Regions from separate parts of the Homo sapiens genome. Here regions 2, 3, 4, 5, 6 and 7 are each reported to be linked to region 1. Evidence: microRNA targets listed by miRTarBase, many of them from high-throughput screens and not tested one by one. Region 1 holds a microRNA gene; each other region holds the end of a gene's coding sequence.
What was found. Region 1 holds the annotated microRNA hsa-miR-155-5p (UUAAUGCUAAUCGUGAUAGGGGUU, at 3,091-3,114, opposite strand). A microRNA usually pairs through its seed, bases 2 to 8, with sites in the 3' UTR of a target mRNA and lowers its output. Matches are read on the target gene's strand: a 7mer-m8 pairs with bases 2 to 8, a 7mer-A1 pairs with bases 2 to 7 and ends in A, and an 8mer does both.

Region 2: miRTarBase lists ARL8B as a target of hsa-miR-155-5p. Seed matches in the 3' UTR shown: 7mer-A1 at 1,699-1,705.
Region 3: miRTarBase lists ATP6V1H as a target of hsa-miR-155-5p. The part of its 3' UTR that is shown has no 7-base or 8-base seed match.
Region 4: the mRNA of ZNF492 is a reported target of hsa-miR-155-5p. Seed matches in the 3' UTR shown: 8mer at 1,456-1,463.
Region 5: miRTarBase lists VPS4B as a target of hsa-miR-155-5p. Seed matches in the 3' UTR shown: 7mer-A1 at 1,084-1,090.
Region 6: the mRNA of RUNX2 is a reported target of hsa-miR-155-5p. The part of its 3' UTR that is shown has no 7-base or 8-base seed match.
Region 7: miRTarBase lists IKBIP as a target of hsa-miR-155-5p. Seed matches in the 3' UTR shown: 8mer at 567-574 and 8mer at 1,856-1,863.

Annotation. Positions count from the first base shown.
Region 1 is chr21:25,572,479-25,577,096 of GRCh38, reverse strand. It overlaps MIR155 (microRNA 155), which reads right to left and starts at 3,117; the gene lies at 3,053-3,117. It overlaps MIR155HG (MIR155 host gene), which reads right to left. Exons shown (of 3, transcript NR_001458.3): 3 at 1,929-3,204. RefSeq lists enhancers at 851-900, 1,293-1,442 and a silencer at 2,994-3,173.
Region 2 is chr3:5,177,695-5,182,312 of GRCh38, reverse strand. It overlaps ARL8B (ARF like GTPase 8B), which reads right to left. Exons shown (of 7, transcript NM_018184.3): 7 at 1,402-3,649. The coding sequence ends at 3,600. Among named protein-coding and RNA genes, the nearest start is that of EDEM1, 7.7 kb to the left of the region's middle. RefSeq lists an enhancer at 171-220.
Region 3 is chr8:53,711,861-53,716,455 of GRCh38, reverse strand. ATP6V1H (ATPase H+ transporting V1 subunit H) reads left to right here. Exons shown (of 14, transcript NM_015941.4): 14 at 432-913. The coding sequence ends at 492. It also overlaps the pseudogene NREPP2. Among named protein-coding and RNA genes, the nearest start is that of ATP6V1H, 130 kb to the left of the region's middle.
Region 4 is chr19:22,664,051-22,668,668 of GRCh38, forward strand. It overlaps ZNF492 (zinc finger protein 492), which reads left to right. Exons shown (of 4, transcript NM_020855.3): 4 at 1-3,621. The coding sequence ends at 1,215. Among named protein-coding and RNA genes, the nearest start is that of ZNF492, 32 kb to the left of the region's middle.
Region 5 is chr18:63,387,372-63,391,989 of GRCh38, reverse strand. VPS4B (vacuolar protein sorting 4 homolog B) reads left to right here. Exons shown (of 11, transcript NM_004869.4): 11 at 914-2,800. The coding sequence ends at 1,015. Among named protein-coding and RNA genes, the nearest start is that of KDSR-DT, 22 kb to the right of the region's middle.
Region 6 is chr6:45,546,968-45,549,967 of GRCh38, reverse strand. It overlaps RUNX2 (RUNX family transcription factor 2), which reads right to left. Exons shown (of 9, transcript NM_001024630.4): 9 at 1-3,000. The coding sequence ends at 2,663. Among named protein-coding and RNA genes, the nearest start is that of RUNX2-AS1, 28 kb to the left of the region's middle.
Region 7 is chr12:98,623,229-98,626,228 of GRCh38, reverse strand. It overlaps IKBIP (IKBKB interacting protein), which reads left to right. Exons shown (of 3, transcript NM_153687.4): 3 at 1-1,980. The coding sequence ends at 299. Among named protein-coding and RNA genes, the nearest start is that of IKBIP, 20 kb to the left of the region's middle.

The DNA.
Region 1 (4,618 bases):
AAACCACCAAAAACCAAAACCAAAACAAAACAAAACAAAACACTACAGTAATAGAAAAAAAAAAAATCCTTATGTGAACATTATTTCACTTACTCTTATTGCTATGGGAGAATTTGAAACCCAAAGTGGAAAGTTAAACTCTTATGTGCAAGTTTTTCCTGCTGGTTTCACTGTTTTCCAGTTATTATTAGTAGAGAACCACATGCTCAGTCAGCTTTTTGTGCTTGTGTCCCATGTATGGACTCTATTATTTTTCTTTAAGCTCCCTTTTCACGTTTCCTCACTTTCTTGAGGTATTTGCTATCATCTATTTTCAGAAAATTTCTAATATTCTATGTTCTGTATATATTCTTCAGTCCTCTGACTTGACTTTTTCCCTCATATTCCTCTATTTTTTTTCTCCTTAATTTTTTAGCTACTGGGTCCATCTAACTGATGACAGTGAATACGAAAGGCTTGGTCTTGAATTCCGTAAATTTCTGGGGAAGTGGGTCAGATCCTAGATAAATCTCTTAACATTTTGCAATTTTTTAAAACCATCCTTAGTTTGTAACTTAAACACAAACGCGCGCGCACACACACACACACACACACACACACACACACACACATATACATATATATACCTTGTTACTTACCCCTTCCTCCAATCCAAACACAGACTCAGTCTTGCTCATGCTCCAAGAATTTTTGTAATGACTGGTCAGGAGGAATCCCTCTAAGATGAGGAGATAGGCAGTCAGAAGCCTAGGTGGGCTGGGCGTGAGAGAAAACCCAGGAACCCTGGTTCTTTGGGTCGTCACCACGGGATTGATTATAGTTAGTTTGGAGCTAGAGTGTCTTTGGGGAGATCTGCTATGGTAGATCATTTGATTTAAATGACTGAAATGTAAAAGTTTGAAAGTTTGTGTTTAACACTTAATGCATAATAGACATTGTGCTTTTCACATGCATGATTTCATTTAAGCCTACATCTTATGAAATATGAAATATATTCATCATTTTATTGATGAAGAAATTGAGGCTTAGAGGAAGATTAAGTAACTTTCCAAAGCTTCATGTGAGTGTACCCAAATGCTCTTCAAATAAGGCATTTCCCAGCACAGCTTTTCTTTAAGTGCCTTTGTAATGTTTATAGCTTTTTATTGTAACAGCAGGAAGGTTATACTACAATAGTTTATTCCAGTCCTAATGTTCTATGACTTTGTGTCTTTAGGCAGCAAGCAGGATTTTGAAGAACTGGGACTCAAAGCAAGGAGTCCTCTTGTAGATATACAGTGGCAGATAAAATGAATTGAACAGACACTTTTTTTTTTTTTTGAGATGGAGTCTCACTCTGTCACCCAGGCTGGAGGGCAGTGGCACGATCTTCGTTCACTGTGAACTCCACCTCCTGGGTTCAAGTGATTCTTCTGCCCCAGCCTCCTGAGTATCTGGGATTACAGGCACGCACCACCATGCCTAGCTAATTTTTGTATTTTTAGTAGAGACGAGGTTTCACTATGTTGGCCAGGGTAGTGTAGAACTCCTGACCTCAAGTGAACCACCCGCCTTGGCCTCCCAAAGTGTTGGAATTATAGGCGTGAGCCACTGTGCCTGGCCTGAAGAAACACTCTTGAATGTGTTCTACCTACATGGGAGCTCCGTGGAGCCACAAGCTCATTCCAGGTGTTAGGAGAAGAAATTTGTGTTGGCAGCACATACAACTTGAACAGAAAGTGAGGAGAAGAAATTTGTCTTGGCAGCACATACAACTTGAACAGAAAGTGGGGCAAAGCCAAATGGGTATTCTTACATGAGAATACTGTGTCCTAGGAGTCAGGAATGTTCCCTTTAGTGTCCTCATAATTTTCTTCCATTGTCTTTTTTTGGCAGATAGCTTCTGGAATTATAATTTGTACTTTGCAAAAGAAAATGGGCCATAAAAATTATTTTAAATCAACTAAAGACTCATGAGATTTATTTGGTTACAGTGAATAACCTGGACAAAATGTTGAGAAGAGTTGTTAAAACAAGTTTACATTAAATATACTAACAATTACGTTTGGTTACATATTTGTAAGTGATGGTTATTTAGAAAAACTGCATAGAAATCCAAACCTTAAATATTCTGCAAATCAAATCATTAGCTTTTCTCTTCTCTAATAAAGTAGGGTGACTAGTTCTTGGATTAATCTAACTATAACATTAATGTAGCACTTGATTATCTTATGGAATAATTCTCTATCTCATCTAAGCCTCACAACAACCTTGTAAAGTATTATCCCCATATGGAGGAAGAAACAGGCTTAGAAGTGGAAAGGTAGATTCTCTGCTCGCACAACCGTATTATGTGGCTAAGCTATTGAACTTGAACCTAGATTTGGGACTTCATTTCAAATATGAAATTTTTTGATTAAATCTTTTTATCTTGTATGGAAAAAATATCTCATTAGCTGTCAGATGTTATTTACCCTGCTAACTGTTAAAAATATTTCATTAAAAAAATTCAGCTTCATAGCCTTTCAGTTTCCCTTTAAGAGTCAAATAAAAGTATTAATTTTAAACTGAAGTTGCCTGAACAGAAAATCGTTACCTGGGGGAAAGTACCAGTTTCTAAATCTTTTAAAAAACGTTGCCAGACAATCCATGATATAACTGGAGGTTAGTAGTCCTTCTAATTTTTAACTACAAAAATATTATAGAAATTTGTGTTTAGCCCACATTTCTAACAGTTGAATCAAAGGTGTTTATGAACATTATAATGAACAAGCCAAAACCTGCAATTAAGAATGACATGAATATATTTTCTGTTAATGATAAAAACAAACATGGGCTTGACATTTAAATGAAAATGTTTGCATTTAGGATACTACTGATAAATCTTTTAAATAACCTTACTTTCAAAACTTAGTTTAAGGTTGAACATCCCAGTGACCAGATTATGATTAACAGATTGAAAAATGATAAAGCCTGAAGTCTAAGTTTATCCAGCAGGGTGACTCATGCTTCTTTGTCATCCTCCCACGGCAGCAATTTGTTCCATGTGAATGCTAGTAACAGGCATCATACACTGTTAATGCTAATATGTAGGAGTCAGTTGGAGGCAAAAACCCCTATCACGATTAGCATTAACAGCATACAGCCTACAGCAAGCCTTCAGCACTCAGAGGATGAGGCATAAAGAATTTAAACCACAGATTTCCCCTTCCTGGTTTGTGCCACCTGCAAGAGAGAAAGAAATGTTTGTGTATGCACATGCGGTTATAAAGCTGGAGTGACAGCATATAGTAAATCTGAAAGGAAAATAGTCCATTTTCTGTTGAAAGGAAGGAGCTCATTAAATCCTTGGAAGTAATTTTTTGAAAGTGGTAGAGAAATTGGCAATTAAAAGATGACATTGTTACCTTTAGGCATATTTGAAGACTTTGAAAATTATGTTTTAAATTCTATTCTCTAGTTTTGAATCGGGTACACATATGTATCATCTTCTTTAAATAAAAAACAAAAACCGCTCTTCGGAGTTTTCAAATGCCAAAATGCAAAGAGGAAAGCTTGCATTCTGACACAGTACAGTTTTTTTTTTTTCTGATTTGTACTTCATCTAGGAGCTAGACAATTAAAGGCCCAAATGTTCAAAATAGTCCTTTATGATTTATGAAAATTAAAACCCAATTAACCTGTTTTATAAGGGTAGGGTTCAGGCTGAATTTTTCTTTCTGTAATACATAGTTGAAGTTTTACCTTTATTCTTTCAGGAAATGTGATACAAGCAATGGAGGTTTGCCTACAAACGAATCTATCTGAAAATGTCCCCGTCTACTATTTAGAGATTCCTTTGGGGAAAGCACTACCCAGTGGCTTTGGTTTTGACTACATAAAGGAAGTATGACTTAAAGAGTCCTCTGTGTTTCAAACTACTTGTCTTAGGCAGAGGGTTGATTAAAAAAAAGAACAAGATGAATTTGCTACTTCCTTTTAGAGTCTGATTTTACTCTCTCAGATAAAGTGACATTTCTCCCACAGGTTTCTGATTTCAGTGTTACTATAACAGAACCTAGAAGTTAGAGTATCATTCAAGTATGTGGTCTCCTGCAGTACAAGAGGGGAATCACCTTTTCTTTTATTTAATAATGAAACCAGCTAGATATAAAAATGTGACTAAGTTCAAAAGAAACGTATGAAGTAAAAAATTCCCCAGTGAATATATTTTGACAGGGCAGAATATCGTGGTTTGGAAATTTCCAAACCAAGGAAATATATTATTCTTACTGATAGTATTTTTTTTTAAACTTTACTGTTTTCTGAGATGAATTAGTTGATGATGAAAAAATTTGGGTTAAATGATGTCACTTCAGGAATTCAATTCATTTTACAGAATTTCAGTCAATAAAGATTGTAAAAACAAGGACTTTTTTTCCCCCTTACAGGGTCCTGGACACAGTAAATGCTCAATAAATACATATTAATAATGTAGTGTTAGTGCCACCCCAGCCAATATAACTCGCCCTTTTCTTAAAAGATGTGTTTAATTTGTATTGAAGGTAAATTGCTGGCATACTATTCTACCCATAAATTTTATTCCTGTTCTTTAAAGATAACATATGAGCACAGGTATTAAAATAAATATATTTAGTAT
Region 2 (4,618 bases), not on the chromosome of region 1:
AACAACTCTTTTCCTACATCCCTACTGTAAGCCCCAGTAAAATGAAGCTAAAGTATCTTTTCCCCCTCCTGATTATTGGGAAATCTGCATTACCTAAATGCCAGATGCCTTGGGATTTCAAAATAGAATTATCTTACTGAAGAGAGGGCTGGTTAATAGAATGGAATAATAAATGACTACTGCTGTGGCTTAGATTTTTAAGAGAGTCCTATTGCAGTCTGTCTACCATGACAATGACCTGCTTTGGTTTCCCTAAGAACACCCAAGAGGAGCAATGACAAAAGTACACATTTTTATTAATAGCTGAATTTTAAACAGCCAATGTGTGGAGGTTATTTACTAACCAACAGGAAACACCTGCAGCAGGCTGCATACTTATAGAGCAGCAAACTTAAGGGAAGTCTGTAAGGCTTTACTGTCTTCCTTTTCAAGTCTCTTCACTGCTATGCACAGTTGAGGGCATAACCTTAAAAGTCTGTAACATAACAAAAACATTTTAAACATCAAACATCGTGCTTTCCCCACTGTGGCACATTTTTAGAGTAAAGCATTTGGCCAACTGGATGTTACAGCATGATGCCCACTACATTATGTTTAAGCTTCCATTCCAGTTCTGAACCCACCAGACCCTTGGAGCAGCTGGAATTACCAAATCAACAGGGTATCAGTGTAACTCAATCCTACATGGAGCAAACAGACAAAGCAGTTAGTTCCTCAAACACCCAATTTACTTGACAGAATCAAAGACCAACTTTATAAGTTTAGAAGTTTTTAAAAGCAGATACACATTTAGAATTAAGCTAAATGTATATCCTCCGTGTTCCCCCATCCTCACCCTCAACTCTCACACACTCACCCCCTTGGTAGGAGAATGGTGAGAAGTGGATGAAACTTGATGCTTGACTACATGGCTCCAGTAATGCAGTGAAAAGACAAAAACACATCAACGTGACGTTCCAGGGAAATAAACGCGAAATCATGCATCCAACTGGCCACTAAGGGTTGGCTGTACAGAATTGTAGTATGCGTATGGAGAAAATGCTAACTGAACCTTTCTAAACAAATAAAAATATACACAATTATTTTTCCAATAGCTCAAGTATTGACTTATTTTATGGGCAGATGATACCAAACTAGCAAAAAGCTTTATGCTAAAAATGTGCCTTTGTGGGAAAACCAGCATGTTCGGTACTTAAAATATTTCCATTCTGAACTGAAGTCAGTGAATAGGCATGTCTTGCAACTTCATTTGCTTAGCAGGGTCTTGGTTTGATTTGTAAAAACTGGGACATAAAATGTTTTACTAGCACTTGCCACTTAAAGTCCTAAATTTGGTGTATTGTGACCGTTGACAAGTAGTAGCATTTCCCCCGCCCCCAAAAAATCACAATATCAATTCTGTGGATATTTTAAAAGTTTATTTCTATTTTAACTAGCCCACAGACCCCATTCTTTGAGGGCTGATCTGATTTCTGACAAATGGTCTATAGACCCTCCTCTCGGAAACTTCCAAAAAAGTCTGCACCTTCCATCATGATGCACATTTTAAGTTAAAATTGCCAATACAACCCTTAAAATGCAAGTTTATTGAATAAAGCTGAGAAGAGCAGTAAACAGACAAAAAATGCATCCACCTAAATAAAAAAATTCACATATTTACATAGTTCAGTAACTGTTAAAAGTTTTCACATGCAGAGGTTAATGCACAGGAAAATGTTGGTAATAGCGTCTGGATGTCTTGAAATGCGGAAAGCAATGTATAGACACACAAACACATTAAGGTTTAGCTATAGGTCAATTAACAAACCTATGCAGTCCCCACAGAGTCACACATTCTAGTTCCAATTCCTCCTTTTAGGCACAAGCAAGTTGCCACATTCTTTGTAATGGTTCACACTGACCATTAATGGTGTTGAACAACAGTAGCAAGTTTAAATATCCCTTCATTTACAGAACCATCCATCCCACCAGGGTAGTATGCAACATGCTTCAAAGAATAAGAAGAGAAATTTAAAAGCCCAGATTCTACTCATAAAAATATGAATGGAGAAAAGCAAGTAGTGTCTGTGCAACACAGTGCAGTATATTGTACAGAATATTTTTAAGGCCATGGCAGTCTATAAATTAAAACTGATATTCATTAAAAGAACTTACTGTTGACTACACTCTGAGTGCTCAACACATTTGGAAATGCAGTCTACATAAGTGCTGCTTAACAAAAGAAACAAAATCACACACAGTGTGAGGCAACACATAAGCAGGTGTACCATAGAGTTTTATCTACTACAGTGGTCTATATGAATAATAATTTACAAATGAACCAGTATTAATATGTCCCTTTATGTATACGGAAGTCGCTAAACTACAAAACATGTCCATTTGAAGTTTTTAGACATCTCTGTATCATAGAAGCAAACAAACAGCATCAGTTCCTCAGTTCTCTGTGTGACTGATTATTAAACAACCTGTAGACATTGAGCATGATTACATTAGATAAAGCAGGCAGGTCTAGAGTTGTCACAATAATCAAGATGTCTAATGGCACCAGTCAAAAGAGTGCCAAAGCTTACATCAGTAAGAGAGAAAAATAAAAATTTTTTATTTGTTTATAAGTATCTTTTGTGCTGAAAGTCAACTTTATGACTGGATATAAAAAGTCAGGAGTTAAGAGTGTCATGCAGCAGCACTGATTTAATGACTGGAGATAGAACAAACAGATGTTTGAACAAAGACTGACATTCTTAACAGGTTTTATTATATTGGGTGGAATGCTCTAAATTCATGAACGCTTTTGGAAAATCTTCAATTCTCAACCCCTTAAAAAAGTATCCTGAACCAGGAAGAAAAAACAAGAGACAGAAATAATGATCTGGACAGATACAAAACAGGATGCTTTAGTTCCTCCCATATCCCAACTGCCATCTGGTGATAGAGTTCTCAGAAAGCAGGATATCTTTAATATTCATCAGGCAGAATCTCACCAGTGCAAAGAACCAACATTGATCTGGTGCCTCCGCTCACTCTCTGCAGACCATTTTGGATTCCTAAGATGTAATTATACATTTCACATGCATTTGTGAGATAAAATAAACATTATGTTTACATATATCCCACATGAGTCATTCACGCCTAAAGGTTTTCTAAATACTGTGTGTGGCACTAGAAACTTCATGCTGTATCAAGTCAGTGTCAGTATTAAGCTACTGGACTCTATAATGAAATATTATAGATAGACATTTACTGAAAACCAATATAAAAATCTGGCCCAGAAAGACCAGAATGGAAATATGCAATTTTCTTGATTTAAGATGGTCATAAGTATATGGGGTTTTTTTTCTGTTTTTAAAGCTCTACACATGGTTTAAGACAGGTATGTGTAAGAAGCCTTTTTGTGTGTGCTGACTTTATCATGACAACTCTAGCTGATTCTTTATGAAGGATTAGGGATATTCATCTTCAGCAGTGCACATGAGAAATAAACTCTGAAAAAGGCAATTTCTGGGGTTTAGGAAGGACCGTATTCTGGGAATTACTTCAGAGGAACGGACAATAATTCTAGGATTATAGCCAAGAAGGACTGGAAGACTTCAGGAGATGCTTCAGCTTCTTCTAGATTTTGAATGCTGAATAAGCCACTGAAGTGTGATATCTAAAGATAGAGGGGAAAAGTGAAGACATTAAAGTTAAAAAACTAAACATCAAACAGAGACAATATTTAAAAGGCAGCTAATTCAAGGCACACACTATGCCTGACCTCTGCTGCTTTTCTGCATCTGCATTACCATACTCCATTACCCGAACTTCAAGAGAATATGAGGAATTATCAGAGACTGAAGCGTTTTCTGATTTAAAAATTAAGTTGTGTATAGGACGGCTGGTGCCACCTTTTATGTGTTGCCCACACAATCAATCAGGTGTTGCATGCAAATTGCCAGGAAGGCAAAAAAAAAAAAAAAAAAAAAGGAATAACCCCTGTTTGCCCTCAAGGCGCTTTTAAGTATAATACACAGAAAAGATGCAGTAATTCCCGGGGCTTGGGGGCCACCCCACAGAACTCCAGGTTAAAAAAAAAAAACAGCAAAAGAATGTTAAAAGGCATGAAACATTGTGGAGCTCTGGATGGATTGTGAGTGATACAATGTGACTAAAGCACAGGGATGGGAGAGGAGGCTGTCACTGCCAAGGCTGGTGCAGGGTTCACACCATGCCCTTTTGACATCTGGGGCTGGGTAATTCTTGTCCTCACTTCTTCAGAAGGGTACATGAGAGTCTATCAGAAGCACCACTCTATTCTCCAAGCCTGAAAGATGAGGGTAAATTCACTACCAGTTTCCCAGCTAACATGCATTAACGAAACACCACAGGGCTGAGCTATAACAAACATGAACTGTTCACCATTGTGGAAGCAATGATTTAACCCAACTACTGAAGAAGCACCTCTGCACCTTAAAATGGGGACAACAGTGCACAATACGAGCAAAGCCACACTCATTGGAACTGAATGGGAGAAAGGTAAATCTGAAGTGAAATAACCAAATTTAAATATTTAAGAAATTCATGGCCGGGCACGGTGGCTCACACCTGTAATCCCACACTTTGGGAGGCCGAGGCAGGTGAT
Region 3 (4,595 bases), not on the chromosome of region 1:
ACATTTGTTTTTCATTTATGAGGTCATTCAGAATCGTAATTGAGGTGATGTTGAACTTCTTAGATTGCAGAAATGGCAGTAGCAGTAAACAAGACCTTTATCTGAACAGGAAAGTAGTCTTTCCCCAGGAAGTAATTACATTTCCTTGTAATCACCTGTTTGTGTAATCGTAATAACTTTACAAGTTATTCATAAAAATAGGAGAATGACTAGTTTGTCTTTGTCATAACTTGTTTGTGTATGATACATGAAGTAGAATTCATACAGCACAAGTACTTTGGAAATTTGGAAAAGTTTAATTTTCTAGGACTTTTTAGTTATTTTTGGATGTTAAAGTAAGTATATATGACAGTGCATAATGTGTTTCAATTTTGGAAGTGATTCTTTGCTATTGAAATTCTCATTCTCCTTACTTCATTCTTTTTTTTCAGGGAATACCTTGGCAAGCAGCTCCAGTCCGAGCAGCCCCAGACCGCTGCCGCCCGAAGCTAAGCCTGCCTCTGGCCTTCCCCTCCGCCTCAATGCAGAACCAGTAGTGGGAGCACTGTGTTTAGAGTTAAGAGTGAACACTGTTTGATTTTACTTGGAATTTCCTCTGTTATATAGCTTTTCCCAATGCTAATTTCCAAACAACAACAACAAAATAACATGTTTGCCTGTTAAGTTGTATAAAAGTAGGTGATTCTGTATTTAAAGAAAATATTACTGTTACATATACTGCTTGCAATTTCTGTATTTATTGTTCTCTGGAAATAAATATAGTTATTAAAGGATTCTCACTCCAAACATGGCCTCTCTCTTTACTTGGACTTTGAACAAAAGTCAACTGTTGTCTCTTTTCAAACCAAATTGGGAGAATTGTTGCAAAGTAGTGAATGGCAAATAAATGTTTTAAAATCTATCGCTCTATCAATCTATGTCTCTATGCAGCTCTCTGTTCATCTATATATCATCTGTGTATCTACACACACAGACACTATTAGTAGTAGCACAGCTGTAAAATCTTAGTTTTTAACATGATACTGTGGTTCAAAAGATTTGCTTTTGGAGTTCAGTGAGAAGTTTTAGCATTAGATTTATTTTCAGTACTTTTATCCTTGGTTTTTAGTGCCTTAAGTTTGTTTTGTCTTAATACATTTTGGTTTAAGCATTGCCAATATATATTTTATTCTCTCCCCTTTCGTTTCTAGAACCACATCCCTTTAGCAGTACATACATGGCATGCAGGCCTCCTCTGAGGCTTTTGTTTTTGAACCACGTCAGCTAATCTCTCTGAGTCTCATTTTTCATTCATTTTCATGTTTTTTCACTTTTTATTCCTAGCAGTTCTATGAATGTTGAGTAGATGTGCTAAAGCTAATAAAACATTTATTCTAGTAAGTTTTTTCTCCTATAGAAAGCCACTCGTAGAATCCATCTCCTGTTTAAGAATCGAAGATTGTTTCATTTTCAACATAGAAATCCTATGGAAGAAATTAGTTAAAATGATGCATAAATTAGTCAATGGGTTCATATGACTTGAATGATTTTCCTTAAAGGGGTTCATGTTTGCCAGAATAGAGGTAGTGTGATCAAACCAATTTTTTCTTTTACTAAAAGTTTAAAAATTGCTTATGTGTAGTTTACTTTTAGAAACATGGAAAATCATTAAATAGAACGTTTCTCATAGTAATTACAGATACTACATTAGCAGAAGATCAGGTTTCATGTTAATATATTAATGGTCTGTAAAATTTTTAGGATTTTAAGGCACTCAATTTCTAGAAGTCCTAGTAACCAGAGACACGGCCATCTTCTGAATTTCGTAAGAATACATGGATTGTTTGGTGTCATAGTTTCTGATTTTAGTTTCATTTTGCACAGCCCTATAGTTCTAAAGTAGAAATCAGTGACAATTGTTCTTGCAGAAAGTATTAGTGCTTTAGTTCCTAAGAAGTGCTTTTGTACATGGGAAGCAACACTCCCATGTAATCATGCTTTAATTTTTTTTTTTTTTTTACCTTACAGCTTGCATATTTATTGAACAAATACTACTAAAATAGCTAAAATACATTGGGTACTTGTCATGAGTGCATCGGTAAAGATCACACTGTTACAAAAGCCTGCATTTTCAGCAGTATACAGCTGCAACTCTACATAAATGCCACAGATGCAGAATACTGTTTTCTTGCTCTATTTACACAGCTGATATACCTATTCTAACAAAGGAGGGAGAGGAGTAATGCACAAGAAACTCAGGCCAATGGGGGAGCAAGAAGAAAACAAAGAAGTGCAGTGCATGCGTCATCGGTGTTTAACAGTCAGAAGCGAAACAGTTCAGAACAAGGCCTGCCCTGTCAAAAGAAGAGCTAAAAGACAGTTATATAAAAATTAAGGTGGGCTTTCAGACTGGCTAACACAACAACATTCCATGAGTAGATGGTAATTTATTTTTGTTTATCCATTTCGTTGGGAGCAAGGACAAAGATGTAAATCTACACCTTGCTTATCAAAATTGCCAAAAAAGAATGCTCTGCCTTTTAAAAAAGTACCATGATTTTGTAGACATTGTTTTCCAATTTAATATTTGGAAAAGGTGTCATTTTCATATTCCTACTCAGATGCCAGTGTTTTGGGTTTTTTTCAGGGGGAATTTATTTAAAAAGGTTTTGCTCTTTTTTTCCACAAATACCGTTTCAAACAGAAAGAACCCAAAGAGACACCTCAAAATGCCTGTAAAATTATTGCTTTTCTTTCTCTAAGTCAGGCAGGCGAGGCAACGGAAAGGAAGAGATTTGGTAAGTAAATTACAGTTTTGTGATTGCTCCCACTACCGTGACTGCATGTCTGTGGGTGCCAGCCGACGAGACAATCGTCTCTCACACTCTGGTAGCATTCACTCAACCTACAACACTGAGGAAGAAAGCCACACTGAAGACACAAGGAAAACAAGTCAATCCAGTCTAGAGAACAACATTCAGGGAAACAGAGTACCAACACCTTCTTAGAACATGGAAATAAAAAATAACTCCATCAGAGCTACCTCGCCAAGGAGCATGTTGAAAGTCCAAAATAGCACCATTCATCAGTGTCTCAGGTCCTGTGGCAGCATCTCGGTCAGTTACCACAAGGAAACAATGAGTTTCAAACTACTTCTATACATCAAAAGAGTACATGGATAAAATATAGAGATATACAGACAATTGCATAAACTACTAGGTTTGTTACATTCTAAATGAAAAAAAAAGGGGGGACTCAGGAGTGGACCAGTTGTGTGAGCACGGTGGGAGTTTGAGTTGTGGAAGACGTTGTAGCGAACCAGGCCTGAAGGCCCACCTGTAAGGGTTGTAAACGTGGATTCACGGTGTGAAATTCTGAGCATTTTCACTTGAGTCAGAATGATTAAAAACTGGTTTGATGATACCTATTTGTCCACTGTAAATTCTCTAAAGCAAGGCTCAGAGTCACATAGTTTCTTCTTATACTTAATGATTTACACAGAAAAAAATCCCATATATAATACCATGACCTCATCAATACCCATACACCATATGTAATACAAATGGAGGTGTTACGATTAAAAAAAGTAGAGGTAACTGATTCTTGGGGAGCGGAGTTCACTGCTGCCCATTGGAGTCAGGGAGGCAGCGTTTGTCTCATTGTTCTTCTTGCGGTTCACTTTCTTTGGGACAGGAAGTCTTCCCTTAGGAAACCTTCCCTCCATGTCCTTGTTTGGAAATGGTTCTTGACTGACCCAAAGAGTTCTGGGTAGTAAACCATTTTGAGAAGCTTAGTCTTGGGCTTCTATTCTCCCTGTTTTCAGTCCAGAGAGACCAACAGACAAAAGCCCCGCTCCCTGTTCACTCCCTCTCCTCTCTACACTCGGCAGGAATCGGCGAGCGGCCAACAGGCGCGCGCGCCCCGACACCCCGCACCCGCGCCCGGGCGCCCCGCTCGCCGCGCCGCCCCAACTGCACCGCGCGGCGCCCCGGGGAGACAAAGCGGACCTGCTGCTCTGCGCCCCGGCCAATCATGCTTTAATTATTATCTCGTATATTAAAATTAATTCCCTCGAGGTACGTTTTTTCCACCTTAAACCTTTACACCCAACTTACAGAGCATACAACAGTCATGAAAGGAGTCACTTTCATTTTTCCTTTGCTTATCAATGTTTTTGATTAACATTCAATGCTTAAACCCTCCTTAAACTATAATACCACCTACATGTTCAATTAAACTGCAGACACCTAATGGAGCAGACTTATAATATGACAAACCAAATCTTAGAAATTGCTTATGAGTCAAATGCAGGTAACTCGACCTAGGGATACAGGTAGTAAAAATACTGTTAAGCATTTTTAAGCATCTTTAAATCAGCCTAAACAAAGAGCCCAGTTATTACAAAATGTGTTATTACACCTGTGTAAACACAATTTACACAATGTGATCAGTATAGGATTGTTGAGTTTCATTTTCTCTATACTTATTTTGACATTTTCCTTGGTTTCATAAGTCCTCATCTAAGCAAGACCAGGACCGGGCATTTCAGGCCAGCCACGGTTAATGGAGTAAAACTGCTATGGATCACAGAACTGAGGTGACACTTTGTGGTGACC
Region 4 (4,618 bases), not on the chromosome of region 1:
TCAAACAGACATACGATAAGACATACTGGAAAGAAATCTTTCAAATGTAAAGAATGTGAAAAGTCATTTTGCATGCTTTCACACTTAGCTCAACATAAAAGAATTCATAGTGGAGAGAAACCCTACAAATGTAAAGAATGTGGGAAAGCCTATAATGAGACCTCAAACCTTTCTACACATAAAAGAATTCATACTGGAAAGAAACCCTACAAATGCGAAGAGTGTGGAAAAGCCTTTAACCGGCTCTCACACCTTACTACACATAAGATAATTCATACTGGAAAGAAACCCTACAAATGTGAGGAGTGTGGCAAAGCTTTTAACCAATCTGCAAACCTTACTACACATAAGAGAATTCATACTGGAGAGAAACCCTACAAATGTGAAGAATGTGGCAGAGCTTTTAGCCAGTCCTCAACCCTTACTGCACATAAGATAATTCATGCTGGAGAGAAACCTTACAAATGTGAAGAATGTGGCAAAGCTTTTAGCCAGTCCTCAACCCTTACTACACATAAGATAATTCATACTGGAGAGAAATTCTACAAATGTGAAGAATGTGGTAAGGCCTTTAGCCAGTTATCCCACCTTACTACACATAAGAGAATTCATTCTGGAGAGAAACCCTACAAGTGTGAAGAATGTGGCAAAGCTTTTAAACAATCCTCAACCCTTACTACACATAAGAGAATTCATGCTGGAGAGAAATTCTACAAATGTGAAGTATGTAGCAAAGCCTTTAGCCGGTTCTCACACCTTACTACACATAAGAGAATTCATACTGGAGAGAAGCCCTACAAATGTGAAGAATGTGGCAAAGCTTTTAACCTATCGTCACAACTTACTACACATAAGATAATTCATACTGGAGAGAAACCCTACAAATGTGAAGAATGTGGCAAAGCTTTTAACCAGTCCTCAACTCTTTCTAAACATAAGGTAATTCATACTGGAGAGAAGCCCTACAAATATGAAGAATGTGGCAAAGCTTTTAACCAGTCCTCACACCTTACTACACATAAGATGATTCATACTGGAGAGAAACCCTACAAGTGTGAAGAATGTGGCAAAGCCTTTAACAACTCCTCTATTCTTAACAGACATAAGATGATTCATACTGGAGAGAAACTCTACAAACCTGAAAGTTGTAACAATGCTTGTGACAACATTGCAAAGATTTCCAAATATAAAAGAAATTGTGCTGGTGAGAAATAATAGAAATATGAATGTGACAAAGCCTTTAAATGGTTATCACACTGGATTGTAGGTAAGGTAATTCATTCTGGAGAAAACTTCTACAAGTGTGAATGAACAGTGTGGCAAAACTTACACAATGCTCAAACCTTATTGCACAGGAAAGCCTTTATACTTGAGAACAAATGTACAAATATAAAGAAAGTAAAAAAGTGATTAATATCTGTGCACATCTTATTCAACATCAGAGTTTATATTAATAGCATTAAAAGTGCAATTACTGTCAAAAGAGTTCAAAAAATAAGCATTTAAAGTGCTGAAGAGGATTTATTTTGAAGACAAACATTACAAATATAAACGAAGTTGTGGTAACTTTACTTGTAACACAGATCTTGTTGTATTCATTCTGTATTAGAGCAAACCCTGAGGCAATTGCTCAAACTTTGTTCAACATCAGAGAATTTATATCGAAGAAAAACCCTGTAAATGTAATAAATTTAGAAAAAAACATTTATTCAAAAACTACAGGTTAGAAAATTCCAGAGAGTTCATATTAAAATATTTTTGCATATACAGTAAATAGAAAAAAATATTTAATTCAATGGTAAGTTTATGTAAATATCAGAGAATTTATGTTAGAAATATATAAGGCAATGACACTTCAGACTTTACACTGAATCAGAGTTCTGAGTTTAGAAAGTAATCCAAAACTAAACTTGGCAGAAAAATTATTTGTTTATAACTTTAAAAGAGTAGAAGATTTTTTGGAGAGTTACAAGTATACTTTTTTTTAGAAAGATTACAGATTTTTTTTAAAAGTAAATAACTCTCAAATTACTTCATACAAATAATGTTGTAATTAACTCAAATTACTTCGTGTTAATGTTGTAATTAACTCTCAAATTACTTCATGCTAAGGAAATTAGTTTTTCTTTTTCTTCTTCTTTTTTTTTTTTTTTTTAGATGGAGTCTTGCTCTATCGCCCCCCCAGGCTGGAGTACAGTGGCACGATCTCAGCTCACTGCAACCTCCGTCTCCAGGGTTCAAGTGATTCTCCTGCCTCAGCCTCCCAAGTGGCTGGGATTACAGGCGCAAACCACCATGCGTGGCTAAATTTTGTATTTTTAATAGAGCCAGGGTTTTGCCATGTTGGCCAGGCTGGTCTCGAACTCGAGACTTTAGGTGATCCGCCCAGCTTGGCCTCCCGCAATGCTGCAATTACAGGTGTTAGCCACTGCGCCTGCCTGATGTTGTTTCTTTATTCCTATTGTATTCATATGTGAAAGCATGTGACCAAAAGATATGAGGATTATTTTTTATTAGGTGAGCATTTATGACCTCTTCTATGAAAGAGTAAGGACATTAAAATGCATGATGAAAATCTAAGTAAAGAGGTTCTTTGTGATTCACTTACAGTACTGAGTGATGCATGAGGTAGGTGTTCTGAGTAATATTCTGCATTATATTGAGAGACAAATTTTTAGTTTTAGTTAAAATTAAAAATAAATTAGTATATTATTTTACTAATTTTACTTTTATGAAAATGCAGTACATGTTAAAAATTTTAGATTATGTGTGAACTTAATTTCTTAATTCAACATTTTTAACAGTTTAAATATTGTGCATTCAATCAAGTCACATTATTCCACTTACTTTAACCTAGTCCACCTTACTCAAGGGTGTAGGTAAAAGGTGGTAACAAGGCCGGGCACGGTGGCTCACGCCTGTAATCCCAGCACTTTGGGAGGCAAAGGTGGGTAGATCACCTGAGGTCGGGAGTTCAAGACCAGCCTGACCAACATGGAGAAACGCCATCTCTACTAAAAATACAAAATTAGCCAGGCATGGTGGCGCATGCCTGTAATCCCAGCTACTCGGGAGGCTGAGGCAGGAGAATCACTTGAACCCGGGAAGCAGAGGTTGCGGTGAGCCGAGATCATGCCATGGCACTCCGTCCTGGGTGACAAAGTGAGACTCCCTCTCAAAAAATAAATAAGTAAATAAAATAAATGGTGGTAACAATACACTATTTGGTAAAAGAATGCACTAACATCTGTAGTACTAATCTTTTTTCCAGTGGCTTTAAACTGCAAATAAGGAATGTTGTTTCTGTAGGTAAAATTTTTATTTATTTTTTCCCATTTAAATTTACTTTTGTTAGTTTTTTCAGGCATATAATATTTATGTTATATATGGCATATTCTGATAAGAGGCATACAATATGTAATAATCACATTAGGGTAAATGAGGTATCCATCACCTTTAGAATTTATTTTTTGTATTATGAACAGTTCAATTGTACAGTTTTAGTTTTTTTAAAATATACGATTGTTATTGACTACAGGGTTATTTTTATAATAAAAATTATATACAAGTATAAAATTTACACATTTCTGAGTCCTGAATAAATAAAAATAATTTCTTGTATATTTTTCTTTGAATATGTGGCCTCTCTACTTGCAAACAGATACAGGCTTTTAGTTTTGATTTACATAGAGTTAAATGTACACATCTATTAGTCTAAATATAAACCTTAGGTGTAAGAAGATTATGGATTAAGTGTGTTTGAGTATGAGTTTGTAACTATTTTCAGAATAATATTGGAACAAGACATCATTTTAATAAGGTGTCTAATTTTCTTTTCTTTTTTCTTTTTTTTTTTTTTTTGGAGACAGAATCTCACTCTGTTGCCTAGGCTGGAGTGCAGTGGCGTGACCTCCGCTCACTGTAACTCTGCCTCCTGGGTTCAAGCAGTTCTCCTGTTTCAGCCTCCCTAGTAGGTAGGACTACAGGCGCAGGCCACCATGCCCAGATAATTTTTGTATTTTTAGTACAGATGGGGTTTCATCATTTTGGTCAGGCTAGTCTTGAACTCCTGACCTCAGGTGATCCACCTGCCTCAATCTTCCAAAGTACTAGGATTACAGGCGTGAACCACTACACCTGGTCAGGTGTCTACTTTTTTAGAAAACAAAAATCCTCAAAAATGAATGCAAATCTATACTCTGGTTTGTATTGAATTTTACTGTATAATTTTACGGCTTATGGTTCAGAATCTTGCCATTCAAATTCTCTTGTTTTCACTTGTCTGGTACTCATGCTAGGCCCATAAATTTCTTGTTTCTGATATATATTTGTTGTTTTATAGTTTATGAGGTATTCATTTTGTGAGCTGCTCTGTGATTATAAGAATGATTTTAATGAAATTTAGTTATGGGCTGGGTGCAGTGGCTCACACCTATAATCCCAACACTTTGGGAGGCCGAGGTGGGTGGATCACTTGAGGTCAGGAGTTCAAGATCAACCTGGCCAACATGGTGAAACCTCATCTCTACCAAAAATAACAAAAATTAGCCAGGCATGGTGGCATGCTCCTGTAATCCCAGCTACTGGGAGGCTGAGGCAGGAGAATAGCTTTAACCCG
Region 5 (4,618 bases), not on the chromosome of region 1:
ACTTTGTTCAGCTTTGAAGAATTTTTAGTAACTTAGAGTGGTCCTTTTCATTATTTTTCATATCCTTTTACAGGAGTCTAGGCTTAGAAGTTAGTTTTTTAATGAATCTCTGATATTAGCATATTTTTCTAACCATTTCGATCTTAATTGTAACTAATTATTTTAAAATTCTGGTTAGTAGATTTTTCATAGAATGGTATTCTGCTTCACTTAAGTGTAAGTGAATGATATTTTCCTTTTGAATTATACTGACTTGGAAAATTGATCTCGTTTAAGAAAAAGAGATAAGGCCAGAAATTAGATCATGAACATACTTTGGAGGCCTTGATCCTCAGACTAAGGGGATTGTCCTTCTGATAAGTATTGGGGAGCCATTTGATCAGTTCAGGGGAAGAAAGTATACGTTTCTACACAAAGGAATAACATGATCAAAGATCATGAAAGATCTGTGAAAGAATAGGGGCCGGGTGCAGGGGCCCACGCCTGTAATCCCAGCACTTCGCAAGGCAGAGGCAGGCGGATCACCTGAGGTCAGGGGTTCGAGACCAGCCTGACCAACAAAACGAAACCCCATCTCTACTAAAAATACAAAAATTAGCCAGGTGTGGTTTCAGGTGCCTGTAATCCCAGCTACTTGGGAGGCTGAGGCAGGAGAATCTCTTGAACCTGGGAGGCAGAGGTTGCAATGAGCCAAGATCACGCCACTGCGCTCCAGCCTGAGCCAACAGAGTGAGACTCCAACTCAAAAAAAAAAAAAAAGAATAGGGAGTTTATCGTTAGTATCTTATGGCAGACTGCAAATATTCATATTTAAACTTAGGTTAAAGTTCATAGCAATAATGATAATATGACGGTTTTTTATTTTGTTAACTCTATTATTAATATCCTCCCTACCCTTCTTTTTCCCTGACAGTCGGATATGTTGCGGTCACTATCTAACACAAAACCTACAGTCAATGAACATGACTTGTTGAAATTAAAGAAGTTTACAGAAGATTTTGGTCAAGAAGGCTAAGCCAAAGACAAGGAAGATGCTTACCATATGTATTCTTTCTTTCATAGATATTTTTGTCTATTTGGATCGCATTAATTGTTTCCAGTAAAACTCTTTTACCACAGGGAAATACACATCTCACTTCAGAGTTCCATTAGGTTTTATATTGTACTTTTCCTCCATTACTTATTAAATACTCCTATTAACAAAAGGTACAAAATAACAGGTTATGAGGAAATGAGCGATATATGAACGGCATAAAAACAGAAATTACCCAGTAAAAAGGATGTCAGAAATTGACATACAAATATTTACAATTTTTATGAATGGTGGTCTTTGCAAAGAGCATTTATATTTTCTTTTTTTTTTACTAAAATGATATAGGGTTTATTTTATATTTTCAAAAAAATTGTTAAACATCATTCTTATCAATGTAAAATTTACGTTATTAAAAAATTACAAATGATAGAATCTTTACTCAGGGATGGGCAATAAAACAGCAAAGAGCTTTGTGATTGGGTTTGAAAGATTTTGAATTATAGACAGTGCTCTTAATAGTTTTTAATAAGTTGATATTTTTTTCTGTGTAGATTTAAATAATTTCTTTAAAAGCGTAAGCTTTGGCTGGGCATGGTGGCTTATGCCTGTAATCCCAGCACTTTGGGAGGCTACGATGGGTGGATCACCTGAGGTCAGGAGTTCAAGACCAGTCTGGCCAACATGGTGAAATGCCGTCTCTACTAAAAATACAAAAATTAGCTGGGCATGATGGCGAGTGTCTGTAATCCCAGCTACTCAGGAGGCTGAGGCGGGAGAATCACTTGAACCTGGGAGGCAGAGGTTGCAGTGAGCTGAGATCGCGCTACTGCATTCCAGCCTGGGCGCCGAGATAGCGCCATTGCACTCCAGCCTGGGCGACTGAATAAAACTCTGTCTCAAAAAAAAACAAAAACGGTAAGCTTTTATATTTAATTAACTGATACCTTTCACTGTGCAATCTCAAGAGGAAGATTTTCTAAATTAGACATTGTCTTTACCTTAAAGAAGAAAATTGTCTATTTCAGTGTCTTTTTTAGCAAGATTGACCAAAACAGGTGGTAGGTGTGTAATTTTTAACTGTCATGAAATACTGTAATGCGCACCTTTGCTAATAAGGAAATGGTCTCCCTTTGAATTATGGGAAGTTTCTTGTCTGTGATATGGGGTGTCTGTGTACATATATGTATATTTCCTTTTTTAATACAGGATAATAATATGGGGTCTTGTCCTTCACCTTTTAAGTTCAGGGAACAGTTTGTCCTGACCACACATATGTTATCAGTGTAATGCTTTATGAAGCTTTAGAAATGAGCTCATGACTCATTAAAAAATAATAAACGATGCTATTTTAATATTTTCAAATAAATAATCTGAGGATGTGTTTCATACTTTAGCATCAACGCTGAGTTGTGCCTTGTAGAATTGCATTGTCTATACATGCAAAAGACTATTAAGTTAGGATGAACTAGATTCCCTAATTACAGTGAAATTCTATCTTGCAAATGCTATAGAATAACTTGCATTTTAAAGTGTATTTGCACATTTTACATATGCTATGTGGTTGCCTTTGGGTTTTCTGTACAGATTGTTTTTGTTATTAAATGGAAAAGGCCTGAATTATGCTCTTATGTGAAGTAAATTGATATAACCTATTGACTGTATTCTGTGTATTATTCTTTATTTTGGGACCTTCTGTGTAAAAGAAAATATTACCTAAATTGGTTAGATACAAAGAAATCATTAAAATTATTAATGTATATATGAAAATTCTGTTTTTCAATGACTTTTATGTGAGGATTGAGAACTAACTTAGTAAACTAACACTGAATTCTTTGTGGATAAGATAATTTATACATCTTACCTGTTTATCAGCCTCAGAATTATACAGTACTGCTGTGTGTTCTTTATGGACAGATACTCAAAGGAATCCGAATGGGCATGTTCTATTTCTCTGGCTCTTGACCAGTAATTATAAAGTTTAGGTAGACATTTTCTGAGCCAGCAAGTAGATCATAGTTGTTAAGCATCTCTATGACTTACACCCTGGATATTTGAAAGCATTTTGTCTCACCCTGAGAAATCTATAAGGACTCTATAATTATAAAACATGTCAATAGAGAATTGACTTCTGAGTCCACTGTCAACTACATGCAGAAAAACAGAATGAGTGTACTTGATTAGTGCCACAGAAGCACCATTTAGCCACTTTCAGAGTTGATAAAGAGGCATACCTACCTGATGGTGCTGTATGTTGCAAGTGAAGCAACACAGTGCCCATTGTTGACACTAATGTTATTTTAAGTTTGTGAGTTTTCACAGGTGCCCTTTTCTTTCCTACTTTCATCCCTTCATTTGTATCCTCCTCTTATTTTAATATGGTATCTTTCTTTTTTTTGCTAGTCCACATCACGTATTTCCATTAAAACCTAATGATGATGAACCATGTAACCTCTTGCAGGAAGACCACCCAAACTACCCCCACCCTACTTTTGGGTTTCTTTAGCAGTTAAATTGCTGCTGCTGCTGTGTTAAGATTTTTCTCTGGAGCATGTTCTATTGATCATGTTTAGATCATTTAGATTGTAAGTTCTGAGAGTTACATTTTCCCCAGCAATTAATATAGTGTTGAGTGCTTTTAGGTACTTAGTAAAGACTTGGGGAAAAAAAAAGGGAGTTATATTTTTATTTTGATCTACCTCATGGATTATGTGAGAGACTTATAAAATAGGTAAGTTTATAAAGTGGCTTTGTTCTTACTGGTCTAGTGAAGTTATGATAAATTTCTGTCTCGGTGATTGAGAACTACACAATCAAAAATGTATTCAAACTAGCTCACCCTGGCCCACCAAAACCGATAGTACATCTTTCCCAGCTGCGAGTTCAGTGACCTCATACTAGTAATTTAAAGTCTGCTCTGATGGGAATATTTATACCATAGAAACCAGCAAGAGTTCAGTTAGCCGTAAAAAATCAAGGACTGCCTGTAACTTAAAATAGGAAGATTAATACTATTTACTGCATTTATGGAAATAAAGGAGACAAGTTCTTTATAGATGCATAAAAAGCAATACAATTCAGCACTTGCTTTTTTTTTAACTGCACAAACTAGGAATAGAAGGGAACTTCTTAATAGAAGAAGTTCTACAAAAAAAACCTAGAGCCAACATATTTAATTGTGAATTTTTGAAAAGCGTATTCCTCCAGAGATCAGGAAAAAGGCAAAGGTGCCCACTATCACCACTTTTTCTCAACTTTGTACAGATTCTAGCCAGTGCAAGCAAAAGAAATGAAAGGCTTACAGATAAGAAATAAAATTGTCATTCACAGATGACATGATTGTAGAAAATTGATATAAACGTAGAAATAATGTGAATTTAACAAGGTTGCAGGATACAAAGTCAAAATTATCTTAGCAACAATTAGAAATTGAAATTATGAGAGTGGTGTGTGCCTATAGTCCCAACTATTGGGGAATTGAAGTGGGAGGATCACTTGAGCCCAGGAGTTCGAGGCTGCAGTGAGCTATTACCACACCACTGCACTCCAGCCTGGGTGAGGGAACGAGACCCTGTCTCAAAAAAAAAA
Region 6 (3,000 bases), not on the chromosome of region 1:
AAAAAAGGGCAGAATTTGTTCTAAGAAATGTGAATTACCCCCATTGGGGTGGTTGGAGTGAGGGTGGAGGGAAGAAGTGCTTGAATTTTTCCCAAGGAAAAAAAGCTTCTAAAGTGTTTCTGGGTTGCTGCCTGCAGCCACTATAGTAACATTTCAACACAAAAGCATCCCTAAAGTCACTCGGTATGTGTACTGTAAACTTAAAAAAGCCCTTTTAACATTAAAAAATAATGTACAAATATAGTACCTTTTTAATTAAATAGGATGCAGCTGGCACTGGCGGTAGCATTTTTATGTCAATTAATTAAAATTGAAATGTGTAACCAGACACTGGCTTTTTTAAGTGCTGCTGAAACAAACACACATATTTTACACTTACAAATAAATGGACAGTGGTGTGCTTCAAGCTACCACACACAAACAATAAATAGTATCAATTACTACTTCCTTCTTACTTAAGTAATAGAAAAGTGGCTTATTTATCTAAGCATACTTGGTATACGGCCTTTAGAAGGCAAAGTGTTTTGCTTTCCCATCCATTTTTATTAGAAGGAGTCAGGATGAATTCCAAGGGAGACTCCCAGGCAGGAAGCACAGGTCCAGCTGCCCCACACGCTGTCCTGCAATGCTGGGTGGCCTACAAAGGTGGGTTTGAGAAGGACCAGAGAACAAGGGGGCCGTTAGGGTTTGAAGGCAAATCTCTGCTAAATTCTGCTTGGGTGGGTGGAGGATTCCAATGAAGGGACCCTGACTTTTCGGGGAGGAGAGCAGGGATTGGCCTGGTGGTGTCATTAGATGATCCTTGTTTGGATTAAGGATTTGCACTTGGAAATCTGCCATGTGACTGCCAGGAGTGGTCAAAGTGCATGCCACAGAAGGACTCTAGCTCAAATTCATACACACTAGTAGACACCAAACTCCACAGCCCCTTGCCCTCCTTGGCCCTCCATTGTAAGAAATACAAATGTCAAAGGCTGTCTGTAGGTCCCCGTGGGCCATATGTCCTCTCAGCTCAGCTACCTGCTGGAACCTGCTGCCTTTTCAGAGGACCTACTCCCAAAGGACAGTGATGTCATTCTGCTCCTCTAAATGCAAATTCTGTGGAAAGCTGCCAGTGGGGCCTTGGGTAAGGCAGATTGGGGTTCCCCTGTTGTGTTGTTTGGTAAGGCTGGTTGGTTAAGAATCTCTGGTGCAATTTTGCTCTCCTGTACTAGGTGTCTCATAATTGAACCCTCTATCCACATGTGCGGCTTTTAGCTGACTATGTCTTTGCTATGAAGCCTGGCGATTTAGAGTTTTGCTTAACTATGAAACCACAGAACATTTTTCTGTAGTTCAATGATTTACTTGTGCTTGTCTTTTTAATATGACAAGAGTCATAATTACCCCAAAGAAATTAGAAAACCACATCACTCCAGCATTTCATGCTGATAAAGGGCTAAAGGTTGTTTTTTAAATCCCTAATTACCGCTTTAGAAGGCAAAGCTGTGTTAGAGGCATTCAAAGATCTGAAAGAACTAAACATAACATTTCCTTCATACATCACAAAAACAATCTATATCTAAAATATTTGGAGATGGAAGTATTTTTTAAAATCACATTGTGCCTGGATGAACTGAAATTGCTTAGCAATATTTCAGATATGGCTCTAGACCACTGAAGAAATTTGTTATTTAATAAAGAGCACTTTTAGAGACCGAAGTCAACATATCAATACACTAAGAAATGTTTCAAGGGTCCAAATGTCATTAAATAATTATAAATATATCTTTAAAGTTATATGACCATTCACGTTAGCAAGTTACCTCAGATTTTACACATATTCATAATTTAAAAAAAAAGAAAACAACACATAGCCAAACGCAATCACTATCTATACCATTATGGCTATAATAATGTATTGCCATTTTCAGTTTTGCATAAAAGGAGAAGGCAGGTTTTAGGGATGGGATTTCTTTTTGGTTCAGTGGGAAAAGGGGAGAAGGAGTGTTAAAAAGTAAAATAAAATAATCTATCCTGATCAGTTATTTTTGAAGTCACTTTCTTGGAGCAGGAAAAAAAAAAAAAAAAACGAACCCAACAGTTCAGATGAGGACCTGCAGCATGTCTGAAAGCAGAAATTGGAAGAGTTATTCTGAATGATGGTACTGTGATGGAAGCATCCATTCTACCTCATGTCCCTTTAGTGCACCTCAACTGGTTTTGTGAGCTGTCTGCGGAGGGCACTGGTCCATACACAGCTGCCACCGTGAGGGTGTGAAGTTTCAAAGCACAGAGAGGAAGCGGCTTTGCTCTTCTCCCTCCTGAACCTGGAGTCCACCTCTCTGAATTGGCATATGAACAGGTTATTGATGATAACAGACCAAACAACAAAAACAAAAATACCTTTTCCCTTCTTTGTTCCTTTGTAAAAGTACATCTTAAATAGTAAACAATCTGAAGCTCGATTGCAATTGTCTCTCTTGAGCCTTCTGCTTCTCAATATCTACCCTCTTATGGCTGCAAGATCATGACTGAGTGAGTGAATGAAAAATCTTCTAAAAAATAGGCACTTTGTAGATAGCTAATCGATATACATATATATGCACTCTCTCTATATATGTATATATTGATACGTGTGGGATGTGGCCCCCAGATACCACTGGGCCACTGCTGAGGAATTTCAATATGGTCGCCAAACAGATTCATCCATTCTGCCACTAGAATTCAAAACAGTTGGGGAACTGCTGTGGCTTCCATCAGCGTCAACACCATCATTCTGGTTAGGCAAATTTGGATTTAATAGCGTGCTGCCATTCGAGGTGGTGGTGCATGGCGGAAGCATTCTGGAAGGAGACCGGTCTCCCCCCGGCACCATGGGAAACTGATAGGATCCTGACGAAGTGCCATAGTAGAGATATGGAGTGCTGCTGGTCTGGAAGGGTCCACTCTGGCTTTGGGAAGAGCCGGGGTAGGGTGGTGGCAGGTAGGTGTGGTAGTGAGTGGTGGCGGACATACCGA
Region 7 (3,000 bases), not on the chromosome of region 1:
CTATTCACTCTGTTCTCAGAGTCTCTCAGGATCTGATAGAAACAGAAAAGAAAATGGAAGACTTGACTATGCAGATGTTTAATATGGAAGATGATATGCTGAAAGCAGTGTCTGAAATAATGGAGATGCAGAAAACCCTTGAAGGAATTCAGTATGATAATAGCATATTAAAGATGCAAAATGAACTGGATATTCTAAAAGAAAAAGTTCATGATTTTATAGCATACTCAAGTACAGGAGAAAAGGGAACTTTAAAAGAATATAATATAGAAAATAAAGGAATTGGTGGTGATTTTTAAATTCATGACATTTATTCTGATGAACCATATCATTATACATAAATTGATTAGTCCATTGATTTTGAGTTACTTTGATACGCCTCATCTTATCCTACATTATTGGAAAATAAATGAGATGTCCACACAAATGGATTATCCACATAATCAAAGCTTATCTTTTTAAGCACTAAAACTTACTTCATTGTAACTATTTGAAATAGAAATAGTTCTTTAAAAATATTTCTCTACTTTTAAAACAAGATACTTAATATTTTTAATGTTTTTTAAAGCATTAATGAACATCATCATTAATTTCACCTATTATATTGTACCCACATATATTGATGTCTCCAGGGGCTAATAAAGAGTATTTACCACTTCACTAAATGACCCCAATTTGCCATTTTCAAACCTATGTCTCATACCTTTTCTGTCACCTGAACTTACTGTCAGGTTGGTTGGTAATGTGCCTGCCTCAGCCAGTTCACTTTCTTAGGTAATTCACTGCAGGTTAAGAATCCACACAACCAAGTTCATGGGAATTTTGTGTAAAATAAAAGATAACATGCCTGAGGGAGAGCCTGGTGCCTTTGCTATGAATTAATATGCACTTTCTGAAAACTCTAAAGCCTGGGAAACATTTTAGTTTTTGTTAAGGTTCTAAACTGTGTTACAGATACTTGTAAGACTTTTAAAATCAGAGTAAGTATGTTCTTACATAAGGCCTTTCTTAGGAATTATGTGTATATAAATCTTTGAAATATCTTTATATACCTGAGTTTTAGGTTCCAACTGTGTTAGACATGAGTTTGCTAGATCCATGGTCTCTAGATGGTTTACTTAAATAGGCCAGGCGCAGTGGCTCACACCTGTAATCCTAGCACTTTGGGAGGCCGAGGTGGGCAGATCACGAAGTCAGGAGATCAAGACCATCTGGCTAACAGGGTGAAACCCTGTCTCTACTAAAAAATACAAAAAATTAGCCAGGCGTGGTGGTGGGTGCCTGTAGTCCCAGCTACTCAGGAGGCTGAGGCAGGAGAATGGTGTGAACCCGGGAGGCAGAGCTTGCAGTGAGCCGAGATCGCGCCACTGCACTCCAGCCTGAGTGGCAAAGTGAGACTCTGTCTCAATAAATAAATAAATAAATAAAAATAAGCCTGTGGCCTGTTTTGAGGGAAAAGTAACATAACTCTGATAATTAATTATGATAATAACTATGATAGTTAAAAATACGTCATTTTAAAGATTTCCCAAACCACACCACTAAATTTGTTTTATGAATTGATTTTATTTTATTTGAAATTATATAATGTAGTCAACTGCAATATGGAAGTTTGTTCTTGTTTCTTTGTCAATAACCTTACCAGTTTTATAATGCAGTTTTTGATGGAATTAAACACAAAGAACTTGAAAGCAGTCAGTTACAAAAAGGTAGTTGTGGTCAAGTAGTTTTAATATGTAAATTTGCAAGTTTTTGGAGAACCCCCAAACTCCTTCTCCACTGGAGTTAGGAGGGCCTGTGGTAGACAGCGTGAATCATGAAAATAAGCCTGGAGAGTTCTGTTATTAAGGGGCATAGCATTAATTTTTGCAGTCTTAAAATTACACTTCTTGACTTCTGAATGTCTCTTATTTGCGTGCACTGACAAAATTCTATTTGTTTACTTTTATATTAATGGTAATAAAATAGATTATAAAGTAAGCTGGAACTTTGTTGTTTTAACCTCCATCCTGTCAAGGCAAATGTGATCTCTTATCTTATATCCTTTACGTTTAAATATTTTTTTCTCACCGATCACCACATTTAATATGAGGTTATTATGAACTTATATATACCATGGTAATGGTTACTGAAAGTAAATGGAAACAAGGTGGCTACTGTTCTCTATAATGACACAAGGGAAAGGAAGAAAACTGCACTTCTACAAGTATAACATGAGAAAACTATTAAAGTATATATGCGTTTGTATGTATGTATAGATATCTAGATAGATATATCCTGTATTTATGAAGAGGTTTTCCTATTAAGAAATTATTAGAGAGATTTAGATGTACTTAATTTGTCTTTCTCTCTTTCTTCCATTCATTTATTTAACACAGATGCTTAAAATTTCAAAAACTTTCCTGTGTATCAAATATTAAATTACATTGTTAGTCTTTTCTTTAGGGAAAATTACCAATATCCTAAAACACATTTTTGTATCTTTGTAACTGATAATAAATTTTATGTCAATTAATTTCTTATAAAGTGGCCAGGCACAGTGCCTCATACTTGTAATCCCAATACTTTGGGAGGCTGAGGCAGAGTGGCTTAAGCCCAGGAGTTTGAGACAGCCTGGGTAACATAGTGAGACCTCGTCCCTACAAAAAAAAAAAAAAAAAAAAAAAAAGTGTAAGGAGGAGTAAGGCCAGGCACAATGGCTCACTCCTATAATTCCAACACTCTGGGAAGCTGAGGTGGGAGGATCGCTTGAGCTCAGGAGTTCAAGACCAGCCTGGATAACATGGTGAGACCTCATGTCTACTAAAAGTCAAAAAAAAGCGCATCCCTGTAGTCCTAGCGACGCAGGAGGCTGAGCCCAGGTGTTCAAGGTTGCAGTGACCTGCACCATTGCATTCCCAGCCTGGGTGACAGAGCAAGACCCTGTCTCAAAAGCATAACAGTACTGGATCAGCTGGGCGCAGTGGCTCACCCCTGTAATCCCAGCACTTTGGGAGGCCG